Linked DNA regions of Homo sapiens: all the other regions are linked to region 5. Evidence: fine-mapped expression QTL. A gene starts in region 5. Each other region holds a variant in brackets. All regions are shown on one strand. Distances are between the middles of the regions. Region 1 overlaps LOC124901997 (a long non-coding RNA gene). Region 2 has its middle 160 kb from the start of MIR5680. Region 3 has its middle 11 kb from the start of MIR5680. Region 4 has its middle 3.0 kb from the start of MIR5680. Region 5 holds the start of NCALD (neurocalcin delta). Region 6 has its middle 110 kb from the start of MIR5680. Region 7 overlaps LOC124901997 (a long non-coding RNA gene).

Evidence for each region. PIP is the estimated chance that this variant, and not a neighbour inherited with it, causes the effect. A credible set is the group of variants that fine-mapping cannot tell apart.
Region 1: its variant is the best candidate, but not a certain one, in a credible set for the expression of NCALD in testis (GTEx, PIP 0.56).
Region 2: its variant is the best candidate, but not a certain one, in a credible set for the expression of NCALD in lymphoblastoid cells (GEUVADIS, PIP 0.75).
Region 3: its variant is the best candidate, but not a certain one, in a credible set for the expression of NCALD in lymphoblastoid cells (TwinsUK, PIP 0.50).
Region 4: its variant is the best candidate, but not a certain one, in a credible set for the expression of NCALD in whole blood (INTERVAL, PIP 0.87).
Region 6: its variant is the best candidate, but not a certain one, in a credible set for the expression of NCALD in skeletal muscle (GTEx, PIP 0.79).
Region 7: its variant is the best candidate, but not a certain one, in a credible set for the expression of NCALD in whole blood (INTERVAL, PIP 0.72).

What each region holds. Positions count from the first base shown.
Region 1 is chr8:102,063,855-102,067,923 of GRCh38, forward strand. LOC124901997 (a long non-coding RNA gene) reads left to right here. Exons shown (of 3, transcript XR_007061038.1): 1 at 1-26; 2 at 2,452-2,498. It also overlaps a transcript of NCALD not described here. Among named protein-coding and RNA genes, the nearest start is that of MIR5680, 60 kb to the right of the region's middle. RefSeq lists an enhancer at 2,236-2,814. The variant A/C (reference allele first, on the strand shown) is at 1,585.
Region 2 is chr8:101,966,587-101,970,655 of GRCh38, forward strand. It overlaps a transcript of NCALD not described here. Among named protein-coding and RNA genes, the nearest start is that of MIR5680, 160 kb to the right of the region's middle. The variant A/G (reference allele first, on the strand shown) is at 1,682.
Region 3 is chr8:102,112,280-102,116,348 of GRCh38, forward strand. It overlaps a transcript of NCALD not described here. Among named protein-coding and RNA genes, the nearest start is that of MIR5680, 11 kb to the right of the region's middle. RefSeq lists an enhancer at 206-707. The variant G/A (reference allele first, on the strand shown) is at 1,757.
Region 4 is chr8:102,126,441-102,130,509 of GRCh38, forward strand. No RefSeq gene overlaps it. Among named protein-coding and RNA genes, the nearest start is that of MIR5680, 3.0 kb to the left of the region's middle. The variant G/A (reference allele first, on the strand shown) is at 2,229.
Region 5 is chr8:101,789,078-101,793,146 of GRCh38, forward strand. It overlaps NCALD (neurocalcin delta), which reads right to left and starts at 1,892. Exons shown (of 4, transcript NM_032041.3): 1 at 1,785-1,892.
Region 6 is chr8:102,010,475-102,014,543 of GRCh38, forward strand. It overlaps a transcript of NCALD not described here. Among named protein-coding and RNA genes, the nearest start is that of MIR5680, 110 kb to the right of the region's middle. The variant GT/G (reference allele first, on the strand shown) is at 1,686.
Region 7 is chr8:102,074,458-102,078,526 of GRCh38, forward strand. It overlaps LOC124901997 (a long non-coding RNA gene), which reads left to right. Exons shown (of 3, transcript XR_007061038.1): 3 at 2,851-2,933. It also overlaps a transcript of NCALD not described here. Among named protein-coding and RNA genes, the nearest start is that of MIR5680, 49 kb to the right of the region's middle. The variant T/C (reference allele first, on the strand shown) is at 2,420.

The DNA.
Region 1 (4,069 bases), 270 kb after region 5:
GAAAACAGCTCCTGCTTCATCCTGAGGTGAGTCCCGAAAAGACTATCCCTAATTTCCCAGTATTTAGAACCCCAGAATTGCCCCACTTCCTTTTGAGACCAGGTCCATATACAATTCATGCTTTTCCCTCAATCCTGGGAACTGCTCCATGGCCTACCAGTGGATTCATTTTTGGCTTAAGTAGCCAGAGTTGGTTTCTGTGCCCCAACTGATAAATGTTCCAACATGAATTTCTAAACATAAACAACCTCAAACAAGGCAATGATTACACGAACAAATGCAACTGTGTTTGCCTTCAGGTTCCCAAAACAGAAGTGATCTCATCCCCAAATGCTGTTTATGCTGTATATTCAGCTGTCACCACCCTGGAGTTAACCCTTCCTCATCTATCCTCCAGCCCCAGAGCTCTGGGAATATCTACATCAAGAGGAGAGAGTACTAACACCCACTCCCCAACACTGCCAGGGCTCAGGGGAAGGGCCACTGGATGCTTGTACGAGTCAGGTACATGCTCCTTTAACCCAGCCCCATGTCCCTGAAACAGGTGCCACCAGGGCAAGGCAGGCTGAGGGAGAATGAATGGATGGCTCCCCACACCTCCACAACACCACTGGGCCCAAGTACACCAAATACAAATAAAACCTGCTGAATCACTTTCAGTTCTTTCGTTCTTTGTATGAACATCATTCACTCCCTTTCTCAGACACTTGTTGAGCCCCTTCTACTTCTACAAGTGATGCAGGTCCAAAACAAACAGCATTCCACGACAGAGAGCCCCTTGGGGATGGCAGCTAAAGCTTATTAACCTCTGAAAGCTCAGGGTCAAGTGCAGTGTCTACAGGTAGCAGCTGCTCCATGAACCTGGTGTTCTAATGATATGAAATGTACAAAAATCACATACCACACAGGAATGAAAACTTTCTTCACACCATGTTTGAGCCAGTGTGCAAAGTTGAGTGTTATCAGCGGGAAGCACCCTAGATGCTGTGCTTTATTCTTTGGCACTTTGCTCTTCCCTAGGTGTCTCCCCATCCACTCATGCCCTTGCTCATTCAACCAGGATTTATGGGAACCCCAGTCCTGCTTCTCTGACATGTCTTCAGTGGAGTCCAGCCTACAATAGAGTACGAGATTTGACAATTCTTCTCACTTTGGCAAAAAAAAAAAAAAAAAAAAAAATCAAGAAACCTCAGGCAATGGACTCTACAGCACAGGAGGAACCAAAAAGCTAAAAAGCAGTAGGGGCTTTGAGGGCTGAAGCAGGAGTGGAGAAAGAAGAAAGAAACAGTTGGAGAGATGTTCTCCAGGCTTGAAATAGAAATGCTGAGCGGCTGCAACAGATTTCGATCTGCTAATCTGAAAAGTCACATTACTTGGTCCTGATGTGAATCAGTGAAGGCTCTTTTTTTTTTCATATCTGCCCATATATTTCCACTGCTCCATACGCAGGCGCCACCACCCAAGGAAGCCGCTTGCCTGTTACCTCAGGGCAGAGTGACAGCGGGCAAAGCGGGGATGTGAACAACTCCAGGCACTCAGCCTTCTGTCCAAGCTACCAATAGATCCCCAGGAATGCTTGCTACA[A/C]ACCTTTGGGAGGTTATTCCTCCATGAATGAATGCTTACAAATGAAACAGAGGCCTTTAATACATTGCAGCGAGAGACACAAAGGTCAGGGCATTGAGGCTGCACATTTTTAGAATTCAGCTTTCTTTGTTCTCTACCACCTGCATCCTCCATCCAACGTCATCCCAATTTTAAACTCCCCAGGGCTACAGGAATTTGCTATTGGAGGCATTAATATTACAAATATCACAGCTATGCTGCCTCAAAAGTAAAATTTTACTCTGGGCAAGGTGGTGTGTACCTGTAATCCCAGCACTTTGGGAGGCTGGGAGGATCGCTTGAGGCCAGGAGTTCAAGACCAGCCTGGGCAACATAGCGAGACCCTGTCTCCAGAATAAACATTAAAATAAAGTAATAAATAAATAAAATTCTTGCACATTTCCATACCACATTTCCAAGGAGACAAGAGTGGGTTGTGGGTTTCTTGACAATTTTTATAACTATATATGATTTTATAACTGTATATGATTTTATAACTATATATGGCTCTCAATTATTCATGAGAAGACAATAAGTAAGTCTTTAGAAAACCCTTAGGATTTTTTCAGCTATTAGTTTCACCCTCCTGGACCCAACTCACAGCGCTAACAAGTAGTAAAATGAGCCATTTCTTCATTCCCCACTTCCCCGGAAGGTGAGGCCAGTCAATACCGAACTGATGAAAAGGCAGGCAGGCAGGCAAAGCCTGGAGGGAAATGTCACAGGTCATGTGCTCCACAATTGTCACAATAACTTTGAACTAGAAATAATTTTTGTCCCCAAGAGAGCCACTCCCTCCTCACTCAGTCTTCCTGAAATATATTTTATGTTCTGGTTCTCATTTCCTAGGATCTTATTCATTTGCTACCAGGATCAGCATACGCTTTTTACCCAAGGTAAGAGAAGGTTTGTATCTCTAATACCATCTAGCAGTTATTCAAGCATTTGTTCAGTAATTCTAGAATCTTATTGCATTGCTCACAGTCGGCACTCACTGTGTGAGTGGCACGGTGCTGGGCCCAGACAATACACGAAGAACAAGATGATTGAGGCATAGCCTGGGAGGCAGCCATTCATGACACAAATAGCTATTTAGTGACCATTGTGATGTAGCTTTAAAAGAATACAACTTGTGAAATCCATTTCCTTTCAAGACCTGCCCTTAGAGAAGAGAGGGAAAACCCGCAGCAAGGCAGGTGTGTGCCCACAGGTTAACGTGACTTGGGGCACGTCTGAATAGGAAGCTTCCACCTAATTCTTTTTTGTACTCTGGGAAAGCAGCATGGGCTTTGCACCAAAATGCACTAATTTATGTTAAATCAAAATATTGGGGAAAACTCTTCAACTAAAGCACAACATTTCAGAAAGAGAGTGTGCACAGCCCCACTCATGAAGGAGGCAGTTGGCCTGACGTTGTCCTTGATGTCATCCTTCCATACCTCTGGTCACCTTCCAGCTTCCTCTAAGCTCTACCCATCTCCATTTGCCTCTGGACACCTACCTCCAAGCTCATTTCTACTAATTCTAACAGAGATATTGGGTGAAAATGGCCTGGTTCAGAATTGTTTGCATTTTAAAGGAAGATTCCAGAAGACTGAAAGAAATCTTTCAGATTCTAAAAATGGAAATGATAAAATTATCTCCTTGACCCATCAAACCACCTCCAATAGAGTCCCCCAAACCATTGCCCATTCCTAACCCATGGAGAGAAATGGGTCCACCTGTTATATGTGCAAACCCTGAGTCTGTGTCTTATTTCTATGTGTGCTCACTTCTAGCACGCTGGCCTCTGAAGCACCTGAGGTGACAGGGAAACATGTGAAGCCATTTTAAAACAACAACTGAATCCAAAGTGGCAGCCTGTGTCAAGATATCAAACTCAGATCAGTTATCACTGAAACAATGTTACTCAAACACTTAACCTTGCTGTTGTTGTTTACTCATCCTTCAACTGTATACTTTTAAAGTGATACAGAATCAGTCTTGTCCCAAACACACACACACACACACACACACAAAACTGTCCTTATATGACCTTGACATAATTTTAGCAAGGACTTTCCAGGAAGAGAATCTAGTAAAGCACCAGTAGGCATTATCTTTCTGAATCATCATAACTGCCTCTTGCTACCACAGAAAACGTAATTTTTGAAGAATGGGAGAATGTAAGCCAGATTCAGAAAGTTAAACATACACCTGTGGGGCAGCCTCAGCAGTATCATTTATACCCTCTGGAATTTGTAGCCCCAGAGTCCATTCCAGATATTATTGCAGTAACACACCTCACTATCCTGCAGCAGGAAGCAGGCACCCCACAAAAGTGGGAGCAGGTAGAGAATAAAGAACTAAACTGAATCACATCTAGCAAACAGACTTCCCCTGTCGTATTCTCCCAAGCCCTGTTTTTCCTGCCCTTCTCTCTTTCCTGGTCTAATACAATTATTTTCCAACTGGCTTCACAATGCCA
Region 2 (4,069 bases), 180 kb after region 5:
CAAACCTGCACATTGTGCACATGTACCCTAAAACTTAAAGTATAATAATAATAAAATTAAAAAAAAAGAATGTGGTAAACTTAGCATTCTTATCTAGACCTTTTTGACATAGGTATGAAGAAGCTTAAACTTGCTCTCCAATCTAAAACTTTCATATTCAGGAGTCTACCTTAAAAGAATAATCAGAGAAGATCACAGAGATTCAGGTGCAAGGATGTTCATCACAGCATTATTTTTAATGATGAAGATGGAAATAACCATTGTGTCAAAAACATTGCATAATTAAACCATGGCACATTTATACAAGAGAATGCACCCATTAAAAGTCATGTTTTTGAAAAATAATAATGAAATAATGTATTATGGGGAACAAATTAGGATATAAAATAATATATATTCATGATGCTAATTTTAGAATATATACGTGTGTGTGTTCAGCAGTACATAACATGTCTATGATAAAAAGCAGTTGGAATGCTTGATGAAGGGAAAGAACTAGAGCTTTCAAAACAGCTGCCAAAAATTTTTGGAACAAACTAAATTCAAATTATTTTCATTTTTTACCTATCTGTTGGTGATAACATCGTGCTTACTATGCCCTTAAAGCCTGAAAATTTTAGCAGTTGATTCATGAACAGTGTTGTAAACCACAACGGAAGTTGCCAAGGAAGTGTGCTGGACTCCATTTCTCTTAAGATGAGGAAAGCAAACAGCATCAAATAATTCAAAGGAATGTTTTAAATCCAAGGACTTTTATTAGGGAACACAAGTTCATCTTCACCACATTTTGATGTAAAAGCAATATGAATCCAAGATCAATTCCTCTTTTGGTAAAGATGCCTTACTTCCTGAGAAACCCTTGTTCGGAAGGGACAGGAATCCTAGGGGCCCAATATTCAATCCAAGTAGTCAGATGTGGCTACTGTCTCTTTGCAGAGGAGAAGGTAGAAAGTCGAATCAATTGGTTAAGTGTCCCATACTCTGCCACTGAGACAACTACAGTTTTGCTGCTAAAAGCAGAACACAGACTTCCAGTGCCAGGGCCTGCCAACTAGCAGGCGTCTCAGAACCCAAGGCCTAATGGGTTATCAATGCCAGCAAGAGTTCTGGGAACCAAGGCCCCACACTGCCACCAGCAAGGCAGCAGAGGGTGAGGATTCTTCTCTCCCGGCCTCACTCTCTTGGACTCTCTACCCCAGAGTAGGCCTACGTTCCCAGCATCAGAGCAGCTTGTTGACACAGCTCTTAAAATTGACACACACACACACACACACACACACATGCACTCACCCTCAGTCATTTCATGCCAGATGCTCTGCCAAGGCACGTTAGCCAGAGGAGTTTCAACATCAGCAACCTCCCCTCTGACAACCCCAGTGTAGTGTGACACCCAGATCACTAGCCATGAGAACAAGTCAGAGCCTCAAAGAGAAACAGAATATGATTGGTTGCCCCTTAAGAGGTGTTAAGCAAATCTGCCCATCACTTTCAGCTTTGTATAATAATAAGTTTTGGAGAGCCTATGACCAATGTCACCCATCTACAGACCTCCAGGTTTCTCTAAGCCCCAAACTCTGGAGTCGGTAGGTATTGGCTTTATATCTACTTAGCTAAAAGAGGCTACTCAAGTGGGTCTTCCCAGAATAAAGAAGTTTTGCTCCAAGGTGAAGAAATCACAAAA[A/G]CTGGAAATAAATGGCCAACTTTAAAGGGCAGTTTTTCTTAAAAGAAAAAAAAAAATAGATTTAACTTCCATTTCATATAGCCCCTTGTACCTTAAAGCAACTTTTCCAGATCAAACAAGCAGATCAATAGATAATTTTTGTGACAAATAGATTTTCCAGGCTGGAGTTTAATCATCTAGGACTAAGCCGTGGTAAACAAAAACTCATAAACTCATCTCTTTGAGGTCAGTGTTTGACACCAAGGTACTGCCTAGAGTGCTCTGCTGTCACACCTGAGTCTTTTTATCCCTAAGATGGGTCACAATGCTTCCTGACTCAGGACGCTGTGAAAAATGCTTGCTGTAATGCCTGCACTGTTATGGCCCAGTACCTGGCACAAGGAAAGGGCTTGTAGTTTCTTTCCCTACTTCCTGTGCCTGCCATCTAGCCACCCTCTTCCCAAAACCCTCCACATCACTCTCCTGTAAAAAAAAAATGCTGGTCCAAACAGCATATGCCTTCTTCACATTGTGTTCTTCAAATTCTATCATAAATTTTTCCCCTCCAAGTAAAATCCCAGCAAAGCCCCACAATGCATACCGAGCAAATTGGTGAATGTGTTCCTGAAAGAGCCTGCCTGAAGCCCCATTGCCTAGTGAAAAATAGTTGCTAGCAAAATGCAATCCAAGCATCTCTGAGGACCCCAGTTGCTTGAGACAGTCCTGAATGAATTGTGATTGGATTCTACTGTATTCACAGGAGGAGAAGCAGGTTGGAGCTTTCATTGGTTCAGCCTTAAACCATCTTGGAATTTGGCAACACAAGCAGTCTCTGCAAGTGAGGAAAGCCCCCAGGGCTGAGCCGAGCACACCACCTGTCTCCATTAAATCTGGTGACATACAGAACCATTTGTTCCTTGCAGTTCTCAGCACAAAGCTACAGTTATTTTTAATTCAAAAAAATACGGTACCATCCAAATGATGTCTCCATTTTTACCTAAGCCAAGCTCTGAAGGCCCAGTCTCACATTAAAGGGAGAAATCTCCTGCCTGTATTAGCTGGTGAATTCACTACTCAGAATGGACCAAGAAATCTGAGTGGGTTTCTATTATTCAAGATTCCATTCTCCTGTTTCTGAACAGCCCTCAGTCTATTACCCCACACTTCGTAATGATGATACTGTTACTTCAACATAATTTTTAGCTTTTCAAAGCCCTTCAACATTTATTTCATTTGACTAGAAGAAACTCTAAAAAACACATAGTTTGGGAGAGAGTATTATGTTAATTATCATATCTTTTAATGAAGACATAAGTAAAACCCAGGTCATCTGATTCTCAGACGGGGCCAATGGCTATGAGAGCCCAGGGTGGCTTCTGCCTGGCAAAAAAAGACACACCTCAGAAGGGCTTTTTAATTTCTTCCAGCATGAAACTTCGTCTTGGTAACTACTACCAGATAATGGATGACATTTCATTACATTTTGTGATACATCTAGAATTTCCCATATTGAATCATATGAAATAACTAATGTTTGGCTGTTTTTGACTTACAAAAACAATTTCATATGATTTGACCTAATACTTTACAACTTTCAGCCTTCTGCAGGCCAGACAGGCCCAAGCTCTTAGATTGATTTCAGGCCTGAAAAATGTAGAAAGTAGAAATAAATCTAAGTGTGTGTGTGTGTGCACACACATGTGTTTACAGATAATAGAGCATACATCATTTAGCTTAGCCATTTAGGTACAACCCTCAAAGTGCTCTCAGAGTAATACTACAAATAATAATAATGAAGAGAAGGAGAAGAAAGATGAGGAAAAGCCGCTCCATGAACATTAAGTAACTTACCTGTAACTTTCCAATCACTGATTTATCTCTGTAGTAACTTAGCTATCACAGATCATTTCTTAGCCCAAGTCCCTACTTATTTCAGTTTCTACTCTCCAGATTCTTAGAATGTAGCAAATAACCTCTTTAATGCCTTCTACTTTTTAATAAGGAAATATGGAGATTTTGTTCATGTATTTACATTGCTTCTGCTGGTTTCTACTTTTTCTTCCAACCTCTTTTCACCCATAATGATCTTTTAATTGCATTGTGTATTATTGCATTGTAATAGTGCTATAATAACAAAATATTTCCTTGCAAATTTTCCATCAATGGTACTGCCTGCCCCCTCCTGGAAGGCAGATTTCTACCATCAAAAGAGTCTGAATTTTTTGTAGAATTTTTGTGGCCCCAACCCAAAAAGCTCTATCTACTCCAAAAAATTGTTTTGGTTGTACAGGCTAACTATTTTCTAGCAGTATATTACTCTACACAGTTGTTAAGTTTCAGGGCTCAAAGCCTAACATGTGGTTTAACAGAAACTAGGCTGCTCCTAGGAAAGCATATGACAGAATTCTG
Region 3 (4,069 bases), 320 kb after region 5:
CTATTATTGCTTCCGTTGTCACCTGAAGATACAAGCTCCAGGGGCCTCACAGCTAATAAGTGGCAATACTAAGACCAAAACCGGATTAATCCAGCTCCAGAAGGGATGTGCTTTTTCCAGCAGAGAACAACAGATTGCCTCCACATTCTTTTTTTATACCAAAAATATCCCTTGCCTAAGCTTGTTTTAGACAAACTGTGATAAAAAAAAAAATTGTTATCAACTAACCAAACAAATTGGCTATCAATACACATTTAGCTATTGTGAATGAAGAAGATACTGAATGACTACATCAGTTTTCAAAAAAGTTATCCAGTCCCCAAATTAGAACTACAGGAAGGAAGCTGCTATAGTTTAAATAAGGTTGTTTGTCTCCACCAAATCTTATGTTGAAATCTGATCCCCATTGTTGGAGGTGGGACTTAATGGAAGGTGCTTGGGTCGTGGGGGTGGGTGCCTCATGAATAGATTAATGCCCTCCCTGGGTGGAGGAGGGAGGTAAGTGAGTTCTCACTCTATTAGTTCAGTGGAGAGCTGATTATTAAGAGCCTGGCACCTCCCCCTCCCCTTGCTTCCTCTCTGGCCATGTGATCTCTGCACGTGCCAGCTCCTCTTCACTTTCCATCATGAATGGAAGCAGCCTGAGGCTCTCACCAGATGCCCAATCTTGAATTTTTACAGACATCAGAATTATAAGCCAAATAAACCTTTTTTCTTTATAAATTACCCAGTCTCACTTATTCCATTATAGCAACGCAAAATGGACCAAGACAGAAGCTATGAATGCCCTTCAAACAATGGAAACAGAAAAAAATAAACCAATTAAGTGGTCTAGGAGAGAAAAGGAAAGGTATAGACAGACCTAAAAATAGTTTCCACCTTATCTCTGTTTCAGTAATAGCAGATTAGCACATATTCTCTTGGAAATGTCACCCAGGCAACCAGAAATACAAAGACAAAGATGTTCCAAAAAACACATGTATATAAATCTATTTTTGCCATCTTTAAGCATAAATGATCACTATAGCAAGAAAGACAATAATTAGGAGATTATCTTTTTTAAAAGCAGGCACAGAAGAAAGTTTATAAATAGGTACCTAGTGTAAAGCAGGGTAACAAAGTGTAAAAGTAGGTCTCTATCTGATAAGAGGCCCTGGCCCATTGCCTCAAATTCAGGCCAAGAATCTATTAGAAGTGTTAAACATATTTTTGCCTATGTTTTTCAAATCTCATGTTTTTATTTCATAAACCAAAGGCAGACGAATACAAAATATGGTAGGCCGGCAAATTTTAAAAATGTATTTTGAAAACTGCCTTAAGTCCCACTTAAGTAGAATAACTATGTTTCTTTACCTGGATTGCCTAGGACAGTCCCCATTTGTGCCTGCTGTTTTGCTGTAATTACTGGAAAGTCCTCCCCTTTCACTCTCAAAAATGTCCCAATGTGAACAATAAATTATGTAGTCGTCTTATATTTAGCCAAGAAACATTTCTTGGCCAGTTATGATGTGCTACCTACTGGGTTGGGCACTTATATTAGTTTTTTAAAAGGTATGTAAGATAAGAACAATTTCAGAACAATCTACTTGAAAAGACAGAAATAGCACCCCAAACAACCGTGAATCAGTGAAAACTTGATAATCATTGGTGTAGTCTAGGCTGTCAGTGCCTTAGTTCAGATCAGAGAAGAGTAGCGAGTGTATCCCCTCAAGGGGGTCACTCCGTAGAACTAATGCTAAAAGCAGCAATGCTTCTC[G/A]AGCACTTCCTGTGTGCCAGGCACTATGACAAGCATGATGCCCACGTGATCTCGCTTCATGCTCAAAACAGCCCTGTAAGTGAAGGGCTGTCATTCGCTCATTTTATGGATGAGATGACTTCCCCAAAGTCAGGCCAGAGAATTCAAATGTCTAGCTCTCAAACATACGTTCTCCACCACTGTAGATGTGGAGGTACTGCCTTCTGATCACCCATCCCTACCAGGAGCTGGCCCAGCAGAGTCACGTGTTATCACAGCCATCAGCTTCTCTCTTTCTGCCCTGCAGCAGAGCAAGCTGTGGCCAAACTCTGTCCAAGGGTTACCAAATCAGTTAAAGCCCAACCAGAAAACTAAAGAGGCTGCTCTTGAATCCTACAGAGGAGTCCTACTGAAGAGGCTATTGAGAAGAAAGTCATACAGGGGTTCAGGAAAGCAATGAAGGATGATGCAGGACTCTAAGGCTAGTAATAGCAGGAAGCCATGACCACCCTAGGCCTGAAGGCATGAGGGGAGGAAGTGGCTGAAGGAACCCAAAGAGGGTGGCGATATGGAGAGGATAGCTGCAGGCGCTGTGGTCTTTAGCACACACACACCAAGCTGCAGCTTGCAACCCAGTGGAGGGACAGGGGAATAAATACCCTACCTCACTCTCCTCCCACCCTCCCGTCTCCTGCTGATTTCTGGCCAAATTATACCAGAAGTCAGAAGAAAAGATGGCCATTGACGCCAGTGGTAAAGATCACCTCTTGGGGCACAGAGCCAGGTGGAGAAGGGAGCCAGGGATGTGGAAGGGCCAACAGGAGATATCCAGGCCTCTTACTGCCCTTGCCCTACAGAAGAGCTGTGCTCCAACCAAGGCAGAGGAAACTGGCCTGGTCACTCTTTGGGAGTTAAGGTGCCAGGTAGGTAAAAGGACACCATCCTCAGCATATGCACAAAGCCAGGGCCAGTTTCATGAGCATGTGACCTGTGCCATCACACAGGCCCCATACTCAGCAGGGCCCCATGCTGGCATTAATCCTCCACTAGCACCATCTTCAAATTCTTAATTTTTTTAAACAAAGTTCCCACACTTTCATTTTGTTGTGAGCCCCACAAACTGTGTAGTTGGTCCCCTGCAAGGCAAACCTTTTCTTCAGGTAGTGAGACTAAATTCTGTAAGTATCACAGTATTCCGATACACTGTTAAAGCAAAAGGATCCAAAGTTAATATTAACCAGAGTAACAATGATACAGTAGGATAGGTAAGATGGTAACATGAAGGGGCACTTTACCTTTTTTTCTTTCCTTCCTCTCTTTTAAAGTCAAACTGTAAAGCAGCTGAGAAACCAAAATTAGCTGCCCCCTAGAGAGAAACTGACCTTAATTACACCTGCTACTCCATAGCACAGACTGAATGGATTTTGGCTCTTCCCCAGTTAATGCGATCAATGCAGACAATAAAACAGAATAATTGATGCCCTGGAGTGGACTTTTCTGATACACCTCATTTGATGGACTACAGTCATCGAATTCTCCAGGCCATTGCCAAAGCTACTCTTTACCTTGCCTTATGTGCCCGATGTACACAGGCCCTACTTTGGGGCTCACTGTTGAAAATACATAAATAAAAGACGTGCGGATGGGTCAATGGCATTCACAAACAATATTTGTAGTGGATGCTTCCTGAAGCATGGGCTTAGAAACTTGAGTCTCTGCTGCTTCTGCTTCCCTTTCCTGAAAGACTCCAGCATCCTTAGCCTTCCTCTGAGAAATTATATTTCTAAAAGCATCTGGGAAAGCCCCAGGTGAGAAGCCTGAACAGGACCAGTGGCAGCTCTTTTTCCCATTCATTTCCTTCAATGCCATCCAGCAAAGCAAAGCCCAGAAAACGTTTAGCTGAGACAGGGATCAAACTGGCTTCTGACAGCCTCTTTCACACCCCTTTATTTCAGAAGTAAAGGACGGTAGATTTTAAGTGTTTGTTTATTTTGTTGTTTAAAGTTAGAATAAAGTTGCAAATGATCAAATCAAAAGCATTTAGAAAACCTCTACTGTGTCAGAAGGGGAACATCACACACCGGGGCCTGTCGTAGGGTGGGGGGAGGCGGGAGGGATAGCATTAGGAGATATACCTAATGTAAATGATGAGTTAATGGGTGCAGCACAGCAACATGGCACATGTATACATATGTAACAAACCTGCACGTTGTGCACATGTACCCTAGAACTTAAAGTATAATAAACAAAAACAAAAACAAAAACAAACAAAAACAAAAACCTCTACTGTGTGTCAAGGAACCTAGAATCCAGACAGTAAATCAAATCTAGGGG
Region 4 (4,069 bases), 340 kb after region 5:
CATAAAGAAATCCCACACCTATTAGCACTCATTCCCTTCTTTCCCCAACCCCCAACTTCCAGTGACCACTTATCTATTTTCTCTCTATGTAGATTTGCCAATTCTGGACATTTTATATAAATGGAATCATACAATTTGAGGACTTTGTGACTGGCTTCTTTCACTCAGCTTAATGTTATCAAGGCTGTCTCATGTTGTAGCATGCATCAGTACTTTGTTCCTCTTTATGAACAAACGATGTCATTGTATAGCTCTATCACATTTTGATTATCCATTTATCAGTTGACAGACATTTAGGTTGTTTCACTTTTTTACTATTGTGGATAATGCTACTATGAACATTTCTGTTCGAGTTTTTGTGTGGATGTACATTTTCATTTTTCTTGGGTATATATATAAATTGCCAGATCACATGGTAACTCCACGTTGAACATTTTGAGAAATTGCCATACCTTTTCCCAAACCAGCTGCACCATTCTACATTCCCACCAGCACTATATGAAGGTTCCAGATTTCTTCCATATCCTCGCCAACACTTGTTATTTGCCACTGAAAAAATCATACCATCCTAGTGGAGGTACAATGGTATCTCTTTTTTTAAATTTTTCTTTAAGTTCTGGGATACATGTGCAGAATGTGCAGGTTTGTTACATAGGTATACATGTGCCATGGTGGTTTGCTGCACCCATCAACCCATCATCTAGGTTTTAAGCCCCACATGCATTAGGTATTTGTCCTAATGCTCTCCATCCCCTTGCTCCCCAACCCCCACAACCGACAGGCCCTGGTGTGTGTTGTTCCCTCCCTGTGTCCGTGTGTTCCATGTGTTCTCATAGAGTGGTATCTTATAACATTTGATTTCCATTTTCCTAATGGCTCATGGTGTTGGTCATCTTCATGTGTGTATTGGCCATAACTTCTTCAGAGAAATGTCTATTCAGATCCTTTGCCCATTTTAAATTTGGTTATTTATCATTTTATTATCCAGGTGTGAGAATTTTTTTATATACTCTGGATATAAGTCCCTTATCAGATCTATGATTTGTCAGTATTTCCTCCATTTCTGTGGCTTGCCTTTTTATTTTCTTGGTGCTGTCCTTTGACGCATAAAAGTTTTCCATTTTGATGAAACACAAATTATCTGTCTTTTCTTTTGATGCTTGTACTTTTAGTGTCATACCTAAAAGGCTTTGCCTAATTCAAGAACATAAAGATTTATGTCTGAATGTTGGGCCCTGCTTTTTTTTTTTTAAGATGGAGTTTCACTCTTGTTGCCCAGGCTGGAGTGCAATGGCATGATCTCGGATCACTGCAACCTCCGCCTCCCAGGTTCAAGTGATTCTCCTGCCTCAGCTTCCTGAGTAGCTGGGATTACAGGTGCCCGCCACCATGCCCAGCTAATTTTTGTATTTTTAGTAGAGACAGGGTTTCACCATGTTGGCCAGGCTGGTCTTGAATTCCTGACCTCAGGTGATCCACCCGCCTTGGCCTCCCAAAGTGCTGGGATTACAGGAGTGAGCCACCCCTCCTGGCCGGGCCCTGCTTTTTTAAACGCTCTTTCAACAGTGTGGTATTGAAAACTGGGAACACTGAGACAACCGGCAGTAAGTCTACATTCAGAGCCTCCCACCTCAAGAGGTCTCATTTGCTGGGACAGTTCTCTCACCACCTCATTTGGTCAACTTTGGGCACTGACTGGCAAGTTTGTGTCAAGCAAGCAACTGAATGTATAGATTTTAGACTAGCCAGTCCAACAATGGCAAGTATTCATTCTAAGGGCCTCCTGTGTGCTTAGAGCTGCTCCAGGCTCTCAGGATATAGCACTAAACAAGACAGACAGGTTCATGCTCTTGTGGGCCTTAAAGTTTAATGAGAGAAAAATAAATAGAGCACATAAGACATATATTAGATGAGTGCCTATGTCAGTAATTCACATAGAATGATTGATGGAACAGCTGAGGAAGGAGCCAGGCAGGGGAAACACAGTGCAAAGGCTCTAACTTGGGGGTAGGTTGGGGGGAAATACACAGCTTATTCTGGAATCCAGGAAATCAGATGTGCTAGAGCTTGGTGGGGGTGCCTTTGGCTGAACTCCCCGCAAGCAGAGCCTGAGCAAAAGTTTAGGCATGAACAGTGCGTAAGGAAGTGAAATCACAGGGGAGTAGGACTGAGAGAAAAGGGAAGTGAGTCAGGAGAAGAGGGAGAGCAACTACAAGGAAGTGCATTCC[G/A]TGGCTGGGCATTGCCTCTCGAGTCTGCAGGAGCACCAAGGGTTGGTCAGGAGGCAGTATGGGGGCATTACTGAGAGTTTAGGAGGGATCCAAGAGAAAGGCACTGATCTATGGTCTTCAGAGAAACAATGTAATGCTTCTGAAGTTCCAAACATCTGTCGGCAGTGGAGGAAGACTACTGGTGTGGTTGGAAGAAAGAAAACTTACTAGCAGGCTCCCTTCTCCCGTTAGTCAATTTAGTCTCCCATTAGTTAACTTAGCCCTCCTAGGTTGCATTTGAGTGGCCACAAAGTAGCTGCCTGGACAACATCAGGGAAGTCCCAAGGTGGAAGGCAAGGCATATGACAGGAGGTGAGGCACTGCTGGGCTGGCTGTACCTGAGAGCGCCCTGAGGGACTGGGAGCAGCAGCCACAGTGAGCACCTCAATCCGAAGTAGTAGCAGAAGTAGCAGCAACCCGGCCCCCTGAACACAGTGATAGTACAGACCACTGCTGGGTTTGCTCTAGCAAATTGGTGCATTATCATCTATCTTAGAGGATGCATAAAATGAGCTTAATACAGTGGCCAGAAGGGAGAGTAAAAAACAAGGTCACAGAGTGCCAGGGCCAGACCATGGACTGTTTCGCAACCTGGGATCAAGAACATAAAATTTACTCTCAGTTGGAATTTATTCTAAGAACAATGCAAAGTCATTGAAGGCTCCTTTGAAATGTATTTTTTTTAATTGACAAACAATAAAATTCACTTTCTTAATAAGCAGTTCTGCTTGTTTTAATAAATGCACGGTTGAGTAGCCATCATTTCTATCAGAATTCAGAGCACTGTCACCCCTCCAAAAATGTTACTGCCCATTGTAGTGAAGCCTTTGCCCTAACCCTAGCCCCTGGCAATCACTGATGTGTTCTTTGCCTCCGTGGTTCTTTCTTTTCAAGAACGTCAGATCAATGAATCATATAGTATGTAGCCTTTCAAGTCTGGCTTCACTTAGCATGAAGCATGTGTTATTCATTTGTGTTGTTAAGTACATCAATGATTTATTCCTTTTTATGGTATGAATGTACCATAGGTTGTTATTCATTCACCAGTTGAAGGAAAGTTAGGTTATTTCCAGTTTGGGGCAATTATTAATAAAGCTACTAAAATAATTGCCTACAGTTTTTTCTGTGAATACAAGCTGTTATTCCATTTGGTCAAATATATAGGACTGGCATTGCTAGATCCCATGGTAAGTGTATAACTATGATATATATAGCTAAACTATATATATCAAAAAGACAGAAAATAACAGATGCTGGCAAGGATGGGGAGAAAAGGGGAATGCTAATACACTGCTGGTGGAAATATAAATTAGTACAACCACTATGGAAAACTGCATGGAGGTTCCTCAAAAAATGAAAAATAGAACTACTATATGATCCAGCTGCTGGGAACATATCCAAAAAAAAGGAAATCAGTAAATCAAAGAGATACTTACACTCCTATATTTACTGCAACACCATTTCACAATAGCCAAGGTATGGAATCGACCCAAGTGTCTGTCAATGGATCAATGAATAAAGAAAATGTGGTATATATACACAATAAAATATTATTCAGCCAAAAAAAAGAATGAAATATTGTCATTTGTAGCAATGTAGGTGGAATTGGAGAACATTATGCTAGGTGAACTAAGCCAGACACAGAAAGACAAATACCACATGTTCTCACTTATATGTGGAATCTAAAGCAATCAAACTCATAGAAGTGGAGAGTAGATGGTGGTTACCAGAGCTGGGAAGGGGAGGAGTATGAAAGGAGGCTGGTTAATAGGTACAAAAACACACTTAGATAGAAGTAATAA
Region 5 (4,069 bases):
AATGTCATAGAGACAGCACCAAGAAAATCTCTGCTACCTGGAAAAACTATAATGATAATTCCACATTTTGAGTAAAAGAAGTAAATGTCAAAGTGTACCTCATCAAAGATAGTGCTGTTAAATGACGGTGCTACTGGTCTTATCTGTGCTCAACTGAAATGTTACATATAAATTATCATTTTTCTAGGGGTGTTAAGAATATGGCCTCTGGGTTATTATAATTTTGAGATCAATTAAGTGATGAGATTATGTCTCAGTAGATGTGCCTGGAATGAAAGCACATTAGACTTTTGGAAAATCCTCCACGGAGACCCTGACCAAAAACAGACATGTCAAATGCCAGCAAGTTAAATGAATATTCACTCATTGAAAGCTACTGAGAAATTATTGATATACCCACAGTTATTCACTTATTACTGTAGCTAAATACTGTTCAAAATTTTTCACCTCCAAGAGTAAAATAAATGCTATTAGAATTCTGAAACTAATAAAGAACATAAAAATTAAAACAATATATTCTTGCACTAAATTACGATATAATTCACACACTGTGAATATATGGTATTCATATATACAGTTAAACCAGTTTCTTCTACTAATTAAAATACTAGCTGTATTACATGTAGTGCTCTAAAATTTGCCCCTTTTTCTGTTAAACTTGTAAGATTTAGACACCTGGTTATAAATCTAGACTTTGGCTAACTTCAGTACTACAGGTATTCTTTAAATTAGAAGCTCCAAAACAATTCAACCTGTATGTCATGAAAGAAAATCTGAAATTACTAAACTTGGGAAGGAAAGGAACTACAATACAAAGAAAACAATTTGTAGTAAATAGTATTATAGGAATAAAGAGATAAAAATTCTTATTAATCACAGTTATCAAATTATTCATTTAAGATCCAGAGCAAATTGTGAGTGACTACTTCTATCTGTGTTTGAGTTAAAGTAGAACTTGTGTCAATGATACTTTTCATTTTAGGGCTATTGTTTTTTTCTTTAGGTAATTATGACGATTTTTAAAAATAACAACAGCTTACATGACTCCTTAGTAAAGACCACCTCATGCCATTCTCTTCACAGCTGAATTTTCAGGGGAGGATACTGGAAATATGCACTTTGCTCTAACAACCAAAAAGCAATTGCATGCACACATGTAAAAGGTTCCACCCCAACTTCCTTGGCATATTCCCGATTATTTCTCTCTAAACAGGAAACTGTTGACAATTTTTCCTGGTACTTTCAGAATACCAAAGGTTTTACTTACAAGCAAAATCCCAACTTTTGTTTCAGTTATAATGTTATTTCCCGTGGTTCCTATTGTTGCTAAATATGAATGCTGCAAACAAGATAGAAACCAAATTCCAAACTATTTTAGGCTGATTCAGAATTGAGTAGCAATTGTAAAAAGAAAAGTTAGAAACACATTGCAAGGCTATGCTGGAGTTTTTAAACCCAAAACAATACTGAAGGGAGGATTCCTGGAATTCAAGAGAGAATATTTGGCTCAAGCTGCAAAATCCGTATGTCTAAATAATGTTATGTTAGCAAGTGTTGAGCAAGCAAGACGATTATATTTTAACCTACTTCACAAAACATTAATCCAAATTTAACCAAATTCCAGAGAACCTGCCTGAAATTCACAACTAGAAGCTGCTTCACATTTTCCCCTTGGTACAACAATAATTGCTCATGAATACAAACTTGTAGGAGGTAAGAGAGAGGGGAAAACCACAATGAGCTATAAAAACATCTAACTATTGTATATAAAGCAAACTAATTACCTCACTCAGAAGAAGTGCAAGATTTAACAGTCCATGCTCTGCAGCCCCTGGAAACAGCAGTAGCAGCAGCAGCAAGGTCCAGCATCCACCAGATTCTCACAAGCCTTTGACTGTGTGGACTCAGCCACAGACTCTGCCTCTAGCTGACGTCAAAGTCCCTGTCACATGGCCAGATGAAAGCCAAGAGATCATTGGTTGTCGTAGCAACCACAGACCGGCTCTGAAATTATTTCAATAGGTCATCTGTCACTGTGGTGTGTGTGTGTGAGAGAGAGAGTATGTGTGTACGCACACACCATAGAACCATCACGGACAGCTCCTTGACAACCTCAACCCCCGAAGTTGTGACTCCAGAATGCCTACAACTTTCCTCTTTAAGGCTTTGGTGTCTTTTCTCTACAGTTACTTGCAGGAAAATATATGCCACCCTGAAGTTCTCATTTGTTTCACTACCATCAGCATGAAGCATGTCTCTCTCTCTCTCTTTCTCTATAACAAAAGGAAAGAAACTGAAAAATTCTGGAGTAGTTTTCTTAGCCAATTAAACTTATTTGCAAGCAAATATATAAAAACAGAAGCTCAGGGGGAGGGGTTGGAAGAAAATGTATTTTAAAAACTATATCAGAGTCTACATGGATATACTGAGACCATGCTTGTGATGGAAAGAAAAATAAAAAACAGTGGCTTGGGTTCATGACAGTGGCTTATGACTCAGAGACAGGTAAGACAGTCTAATGATCCTGACACCAAGTAGGATGTAGACATCAGATAACATAAATTCAGGATTCCTGTACTGTAAAATGTCTAGGTAAAAATGAGGACCGAAGGAGTTTCAAAACAGTGTTACTTTAAAATAACCATGTGAGTAAGCTGAAAACTGTGCTTTGGGGCCATACGGGTGCCAAATGCTCCCCTCTTGAGTCCTCTCATCCACACCCCTTTGCTGAGACTCAACATTGAGTAAACAGGGCCAGTGTTCCACAAACACAAAGTGTAATGAAAGCCCAGAGCCATAGAATGAAAGGGTTATCTCACATGTTTTCTAACATCAGCTTTATTTCCTTTACGACGACCCTAGCTTACTTTTAACTCTGCACACGTGCCTATTTCCCAGTTAATTCTCTTTCTTAATTAATGGGAAGCCGATTAAACAAAATCAATGAAACTCACAAGAAGGTACTCTGAAAAAGACATTCAGAAAATGTATGCCCAAACAAAGGACAAGGAGTTAAAAGGCAGGGGAGAAGAGACTGCCCTCAAAACCCTAAGGACCTTTATATGCTAGGCTTATAACGACTTCTATTCTGTTTCTTAAAATAAATAAATAAATAAAAAAGAGTAGCTCTGGGGTGCTACAAAATATAAATGGAACCTAAGTCAGCCAGGCAGATTACATTTGTGTCACTGTAAAAGAATGAAATTTCTTTAGTAGAATCAGAAATTGCTTCTTTAATAATAAGACTAATGTTCAAATCACTTGGTCATAGAATCGTCCTACTCCATCCTCCTTTTCATCTTCCTTTATTTCTGTCCCAGCCCCAATTGGGAGAAAAGATAGATTTTTATTTAAAAAGTTATTTTCCTGATGCGATTAGCTGTGGCACTGCAAAACCGAAATCAAACTATAAGGAACTTTCCTCCTTTAATTTCAGATTAATGACAGCTGGGAATTTACCTGTTTGAACAAGGACAATGGAATCCAATGTCTACCTAAAGCCTCACTAGGGGCAGATTTCACCAACAGCCACAATTCATAAACTGACAATTTGTTCCAATTATTGTTCTGCTTTTATGTTCAGAAATGCACATCATACAAATGAGGGAACCGGAAGAGGCAGAGAAACATACCCTTCTAGCTTTCCCTGGACCCACGTTCTCTGAGCTGCTTAATTTACCATCTCTCTGGCTCTAATCCATAGCTGCCTAATTAATTCTTCCTCCTCTTTATGCAGCTTTAGCATTTAAGAGAGAAAAACTGCAGTGCCACATTCTGCTAATAGGTGATGTCTTCTGAAATAAGAAGTTCTCAGTTCTAAAAAAAAAAAAAAATGCCTAAAATTCAGGACTTTAAATGGATTAATTTGAAAATTAGCAAAAAACCAACACTTTTACTTTGACTGGTTTAGCATTTTTAAGACTAAGTATACTTTATACTGCCTTGGGCAGTATTAAAATATTCAGTGAACTATTAAAATATTCAGTGAACTGGCTGGGCATGGTGGCTCACGCCTGTAATACCAGCACTTTGGGAGGCTGAGGCCGGTGGATCACAAGGTCAGGAGATC
Region 6 (4,069 bases), 220 kb after region 5:
TTCACTGTGACTTCAACTATAAAAGTCTTTCATGAGGATTACATTGGTTAAATATAAACATGAGAATAAGTTGAGTGTTGAGCAGGAAAACAGTAACAGGATCAGAAAGAAGTTTAAGCTGTTCATTTGGGCCTTCAAATACACTTAGCCTGAAAAACCAGGAAGAGTAAAAGGAGAGCTGTCGGCCTGTGGGAAAGAACAGCAACTTTGGCTTTACTGGTAAGGCAAAATCACCTCCAGCCTGTGGGTCTCTCTGACGTTTCCCTAGAGATAACAATTTTCCTTTACTTAAAAGTAATGAACAATTATCAGGTGATGGGGACTTCCTCTTCTTCATTGTGTTTGTGGGTGTTTATACCACATAAGATTACATCAGGAAACACTTTGGAGGTCACCATACACACTAACCAATGAGCAACTCAATCATTTCTATATATGTACAAGAAAGTTGATAATTTCAACCAAATGATCTTCATATATCCCATGAATAAGCTGTGAATTTCTTCAGGGAAGGATACACAAGAGAAATGTCACGTCTGGTTCCTTTTTAATCATGTAGTTGAGGAGGCAAAGACAGACCCACAGGAAACATGGACAAGAGACATTGTTTGATCTCTCTTGAAACTTACCTACTCTTCATTTCTTTCTTGACCTCACGGAGTCCTCTTTGACTTCTACCCATCCACCATATCCATTAACCACTTTCTCCAACTTTATGGTCAACCCCTACTCCCCCAACACAGACACAAATACACCTTGGTCTCCTTCCTTCTGTGCCCAATCTGAGAACGTTATGAACTCTCCATAGATCCTCAATATTCTTCTCCTCTTATCTTTTCAACCCTGGATCAATCCTGCATTCTTTACTCTCTGTTCCAACACTGATAACTCCAGGAGAAAAGCTACATCTTCCTCAAAGATCCCTTCGAGGAAGTCACGAGGTCTCACTTGAGAATGTTAACTTCCCAGCTAGGCTGTAAGTTTCTTGAGGACAGAAACTGTGTCCCATACTTCTTTGTTAAGACCAAGGGTACCCCTGAAGGCTCAATAAATCTTTGATGCAATGAATTAATGTCAGAAATAAGGAACTAGAAAGGTCAGTGCTCATTTGACAATCTTATGTATAAAACTTTCCTACCTAGTTTATGTGTAAATAAACACATAAAGTAGGTATGTGCTATTCCAAAATAATTCAAATTATTGAATTGAATTATATTCAAATTATAGCCTCAGAAGGGACTGCTACCTAAAAATCAGCATGTAAAAATTATTCTGTGGATTTCAGAGTTGTAAAACTCTTCAAATTTATCTTATAACTCAAAATATTTTCTAATTTAAGATCATCCTTCCTGTTAGTTAAAGCAGTGTAGTGAGATCTTACTATACTATATGAGAAACCACATTTAAAGTTTCACCAAATGGAAATTCATCTTCAGGTCCTATTTGTATCTCTCCCATGGAAAAACAAAAGGGTCTTTCCATGTTCGTCAGAAAGGCAAATATCAAAGGAATCCTGAAATATCTCATTTCAGGGAGAAGAAAGTCAACATTCTAATGAGGCAATGGCCACTGTGAGGTGTAAAGTTTCAATGGGACATTGCCCCGAAGGAGTCCTGGGTACTTTGAGTCCACACTGGGAATGCAGAATGCTCTTCCCTTAAGTCAGTGGCAAACTGGTCTCAGCT[GT/G]TGTGGGGACAACTGCTCTGCCAAGCAAACTGTGCTGCAGGTCATCAACCTCATACCAGCTTGGCAGGAACAAGCCCGAATGTCACCTGATTCTCCTACAAATGTAATAATATCCAACAAGCAACTGATTGGACAGCACACGATGTCATTTTCTCTAATTAAGGAACTCTCAAGAAAAACCAAAATAGCCACAGAGCACTGTCAGCAAAGCAATCAGTGGCAACAATTAGCTGTCAACTCCAACTCCCGGGCTGAGCCTTGGGTAGGGAGCTGGGCTAATTGCTAAGAGTTTCCAAATCAGCATTACATCAGGAGTCAAAGACGACAAGGACGTAAGGAGAGGCCAGAGCCTGCTACACACCAACAGCGCCTGCCTCAAACACTCCTCTAGTGCGGGGAGTAGCGGGATGTGTAATCACAGGAGCTACTGCCCAGTCATCTGCATTTGCTTGTTTGTTTGTTTCTTGAGAAGCAATGCAGAGGGATCTAATGATGAATCATGCAGTGAGCTTCTGAAACAGCTGAAGGCCTAGTGGCTGTGGTCCTTGCTGTTTCTTTACCCTGAGTCACCCTTCCTCTTTACCTGAAACAAGTCTACCCATTCTTTAAGATCTATAAGCAGTTCATGCCCATCTCCTTTAAAAGGGCTTCAGGACTGCAAAACACACATGAATTTTCCCTTTTCTCAGCTCCCATAGCAGATCACCACATTGCAAGGTCATTAGTAGCAGGAGTTGAGTAAACATATAAAGCAACTAATATAATACAGTTGTCACAATATGTAATAATATATAACAATCAGATATTTTTATATATACACACATACACTCACACACACACACAAATATATACCCTCACACACATACATACATAAGTATTAGAGGAAGCATCATTCTCTCCTTCTCAACATTCCTACTACCTAGGCACATAAAACAAAAACGTTTATCTTCTTGAAACTACTAGAAGGTGATTCTTCTACCTCACTACATCCCTCCATGCTCCCTCAAGGGAGTGAATTGAATTGCTGGCCTGAGAGTGTATAAGCACATGGTGGTCTAGGTACCTCCCCTTTTCTCTATTTCTGGTCTCAGCAGCTCATATTTTTCTTTTCCATGAAAGAAGATCTCAGCAATCAAAGTAATAGGAGATGTCATTGTAGATGAACCTGTTCATAATTTAAGCTCATTCTCCAATACAGCAGCACTGGTCCTACTGCTAATCTTTACCTCCCTGTTGGTCTGATGTCTACATTTAGTTCTCCATCCATAGCAAGCCCAGCCCCAATGGATTTAGCAGAAAGAATATGCCCAACTTAAAGACACATTTCTCATCCTCCTTTGCAGCTAAGGGTGACCATTGAGATTGTGCTGGAATTCACTGGCCAGGGCAACCAGAACAACTCTTTACCTGGGCTGACTCCACTGGGAGGCATGACCTCGTGCCCTTCTCTGGCTACCTGCTTGGAACACATATGTAATGGTCCCAAATTGAACAAGATATGTTAAAAAAAAAATTAATGATGTTGCCAGATGTTTTGACTTCATGTCTCTCACTAAGTGGGGAAAGGAATGAGTTTAAAATACCTGAGTCCAAAAACAAAAGGAAAGACAAAAGGAGAGCAGGTGCTTTAATCCAGAAATCACGGCTAGCATTTTCTATGGAATTAAAGGAAAGAGAACAGCTTAAGAATTTGGATAAATGTAAAATTAACCTTTATCAAGATTTGAGAAAACTAGAATTTTGGCAGCACACTCCCTTCACTGAATAACAAGATACTCAAAGTCAGGAAGATTAAAAAGTTGAGAGCTCTTGGCAAGAAGCTTGTCAGAGGAATGGGTCCTTGCTATGACCCTGTGGGCCAGGTTTTTGAAGCATCAATAGCAACTTCATGCAGGAACCTGTTTCTTAATCTGAGACCAATATGGAGAGGGCAGAATTGCCCTAGGAAGCAGGCTTCATGTGAGTCTCTGTCCATTTGGGCTGCTATAATAAAATACCATAGACTGCATGGCTTATAAGCAACATTTATTGCTCACAGTTCTGGAGGCTGGGAAGTCTCAGATCAAAGTGCCAGCAGATTCGGAATCTGGTGAGGGTCCTATTCCTGATTTATAGAATGGTGCCTTCCTGCTATGTCCTCACATGATGGAAGGGGCAAAATTCCCATAGGTTTCTTTTATTAGGGCATGAATTCCATTCATGAGGGCCCCACTTTCATGATCTAATCACCTCCCAAAGGCTCTCCCTCTTAAAACCATCTCTTTGGGGGTTGGGTTTCAACATATGAATTCTGGGGGGTATACAAATGTTCCCATCACAGCAATAGGTCTAAAAAGAAATCTCTTTATGAGAGAAAGCACCAGAAAATTCCCTGCTACAAGAA
Region 7 (4,069 bases), 290 kb after region 5:
AAGTTCCTGACATTGGTGTGACAGCTGATTCTGAACCCCTAGGAGACTGACCTAGCTTCCTGTTGGCCATATTCTCTTCAAGATCTTAATTTTTGTGCCCCAAACCCAGACTGATGACCTGTATACTTTTTGACTGGTTTTTGAGTCTCAGAAATTAGATTTATGGCCATCAACCCTGACTGCACTTGATCAGCAGCTCTCACGTCGGTTCCACAGGAAATCCTCCACCTCTTCCTGTGGGCATATTTACTTCCACACAATATTATTACTGATGTGTATACAGGTTTACATCTACTTTCTTCTATAAAGAACTTGAAGATGCTTGTAAAATATATGCAATAAACTAGAACAGTGGTTTTTTAATCAATTTAGGGTATATCAATTATGATTCCATTCAGCTGTGACTTTTTAATCAATTTTGGGTGGGGCCATTATGATTCCATTCAGCTGGGAACTTTGTTGTACTGCTCCATCATTTCTTCTCATGTATGGCTTCTTTTCCATAAGGTGATAACGTGGCTGCTACACCTCCATGCATCACAGCTGCATCCCAGGCAAAAGGAAGGAGGAAGGGGAAAAGACAACATCACAGACTTCTGCTTACTTTATATTGGTCAGAACTGTGTCCCCTGGCCAGTTAGCTGTAAGACACACTGAGAAACTGAATATTTAACGGGGCCTATTGCTCTGAAAAAACTCAGATTTCTCTTAGTAAGAAAGAAAGAGAACATATAACAAGTAGACAACTCACAGCAAGTGCCACACCAAGAAAAGTCTAAACCTCATAGATGTTACCAAAAGGAAATTTTTCCCTATGTGTCCATGAATATTTATGGAAACATAACTATAAAACTATAGGATTACATTTACATAATACTATAGGATCATAGTAATGTAACAGGAGGTTCAGCTCTCATTGAAATCTTCTCTCATTTTCTCAGGACTTGATGGGACAATAGTGGTACCAAGGCAGAGGATTGTCTAATACTATAATATTATACAATGTGTGCTTGTATAATACTATAGAATTATGTAGGTCTGATAAATTAGAATAATCTGGATAATTATTTATTGCATCTCTTAGGGTTTTCTTTTTCTCCTTTATAGTTCTCCCTTCTGAGGTTCCTTCTTATTTAAATCAATAGGAGAATCTTAATAATAAACTTAAGAGACATTGGCAAGATGAATCAAGACTCATGAAAATGTTTCCACGTTGGCTAGGTGCGGTAGCTCATGCCTGTAATCCCAGCATTTTGGGAGGCCAAGGCAGATGGATTACAAGGTCAGGAGTTCAAGACCAGCCTGGCCAAGATGGTGAAACTTTGTCTCTAAAATATACAAAAAAATTAGCCAAGCACGGGGGTGAGCACCTGTAATCCCAGCTACCCAGGAGGCTGAGGCAGAGAATTGCTTGAACCAGGGAGGCAGAGGTTGCAGTAAGCCGAGATTCCACCGTGGCACTCCAGCCTGGGTGACAGAGCGAGATTCTGTCTCAAAAAAAAAAACAAACAAAAAACTGGAAACAAAATAAATGTCCCCAAAGAGAATATCAAATAAATTATGGTCATTCTAATCTATGAAATAGTATGTAAAAAATAAAACTATTATGAAATATTATAAAGGAATATAAAACTTGTGTATGCTATCATTAAAATTCTAAAAATACATATAAATAGTATAAAGACCAAAAAGGAATAAAAAAATAACATGTTTATTATAAAACATGAAACGTGTTTATTAAGAAAATGTGTTATGAAGATTTTCCCTCTTTCTTTTCTCAACTTTTGAAATGTTTTTAAAATGTTTGTAAAATAGTCTGCTAAGAGAACACAGGTGACTTATTGTTAGTAACCAAGTCAAGCTAATGAGTGACACACACAGGCTTGCGGAGAAGAAAAATCAGTCTCATTCTCCCTGGGCAGATGCTGAACCACCTGCCTGTACCGGTTATAACAGAAAGCCTCCCTAAAAATAAAGCCAAGAGGTTGGGAACATAGAAATGGAATAAGATTTTAGCAGCTACATAAGATTTGCCACATCTCAAGGCCATTAAACTCAATCATGGGAGTGAAAAAGTCAACTCTATTTTCCACAGTTTATATGTGAGAAATAGAAGCTCAAAATGACTCTCCAGAGAGAATGCATCCTCTCACAGCAAAGAGGATCTAGGGAACCAACACAAAATAATACTTGTATTCACCTAAGAGGCTTCTGGATTGAATAAATCCTCTCTGGCTGCATCTTTAACCATGTACCCAAATGCTGGTGAACAGGTAACTATAATTACCTAAATAATTACAGGTAGCTATAATTACATAAATAATTACAGGTAAGTATAATTACCTAAAGCAAATAGCACGCCTTCCTTCTGAAATGACACACACTTGAAGTTGTTTTTCTAATGGTGATGGTAGACTTA[T/C]ACAATTGCCTACACTTGTGACCCTGCTGGCCCTGTGGCCCACCCGTGACTCACACCTGCACAGTGACCTGTGGCCTAGGATTGAGAATTCTGCTTGAGGCCAGAATGAAGCAATGCTATATCATCTTCCCCATTCACGCCCCTTCCCTTACAGGCCCTTCCTGAAATCATGTAGTCTCTCTTCATCAACAGCTAGTCACATAACTCCCCAAATTAAGTAATGTTCTCTATTCTTTCCCTGTCTCTCCTTTGCAGAGGCTGGTGGAGGGGGTGGGGTGGAATTGCTAGTATGAGCCTCCTGGGATGCCTTAGCACTACTTGGGTGAAAGGTTCATTCCAACAAAACTCATACCAGATTGAAAGGATCATTTCCCCACTGCCTGGAGAAGAACTGACTGTGATGATCACCCCATCCTATGGTTCCTCCACAGGGTTCAAAATACGGAGGCCGCATTGTGTCCATGGATGGGAGCATGGAAAGAAACCTTTAAAAGCTGGACCAAGAAAGGAAAGAAGACAGAAAAGTAGGAAGAAATCCTGATACTGGTGGTACCAAATGCCTCTGAAATTGTTTCGAAAGTAAAAGTTAAGAGGGAACTAATAAAAAGTCTGTAAAAATGAGATAAATTAAAAGAAAGATATGATAGAGAGAGAGAAATAATATCCCTTAACAGTCTGTCAGCAAAATTTAAATTATACTTTAGGCAAGTGTTAGAATGCCTGCCCGTCCTATCCCTTCCCCTTCTCATGAAATCTGGACTGCCCACAAACTTAGTAGACAGCAGGCCTCATACCCCCATTCCCTTTAGCGACTACTGATTGGGCCAAGGACAGACAGCAGACTGGAAGGGGCCCTACACCTTGGTGGGCCAGATATCAGTTGAATTCACTGTCTCTGGAATTTGACCTCTTACCTGACTGGCTGCTGCTCCTCGGTTCTCTTTGGTGGCTCTCCTCCTCATCTCCACCTCTAGATATCGGGGTACCCCAGAGATTAGCTCCAGGCCTCCTCTGCTCTATACACATTCTCTCTCTGGGTGATTCTAGCTACACCTCTGGCAAAATTTAGCTAATCTCCAGTCCTGACCTCTCCCCTGCTCCAGATTCAAATATCCAAGTAGCTGCTTGACAGATTCATTTGGAGACCAGGTAGGCACCTCAAAACTTAACGTGTCCAAAACATGAATTTATTTTCTCTCCTCCCTCACCCCCATCCTGACCCTTTCCCTGTCTTCCCTCATGTCTACAAATGGCCACCCCATGCAACCAGTTGCTCTGGCAAAACTTAGTCATCAACCTCAATTTATCTCTTCTTTTTATCACACCATGCCCAACTCACCTACAAATCCTGCAATATCCCTACACAGCCCCTTCTCGCCAGCTCCACTGCCACCACCCTAATCCCAGCTGCCATCACCTCTCAAGGGGATTACTGTAATAGTCAGCTACCTGGTCTCTTTGTTCCTACTCTTGCCCCTCTACATTCTATTTTTCACACAGCCACCACAGTGATCTTTTAAAAATGTGAATCATGATCAAATGTAACTCCTCAACTTAAGACCCTTCCAATCAATGGCTTTTTATTTCGCTTAGAAAAAAAGTCCAAATGTCTAACCATATTACAAGTCCCTTTGTGAGATGTCCCTACCT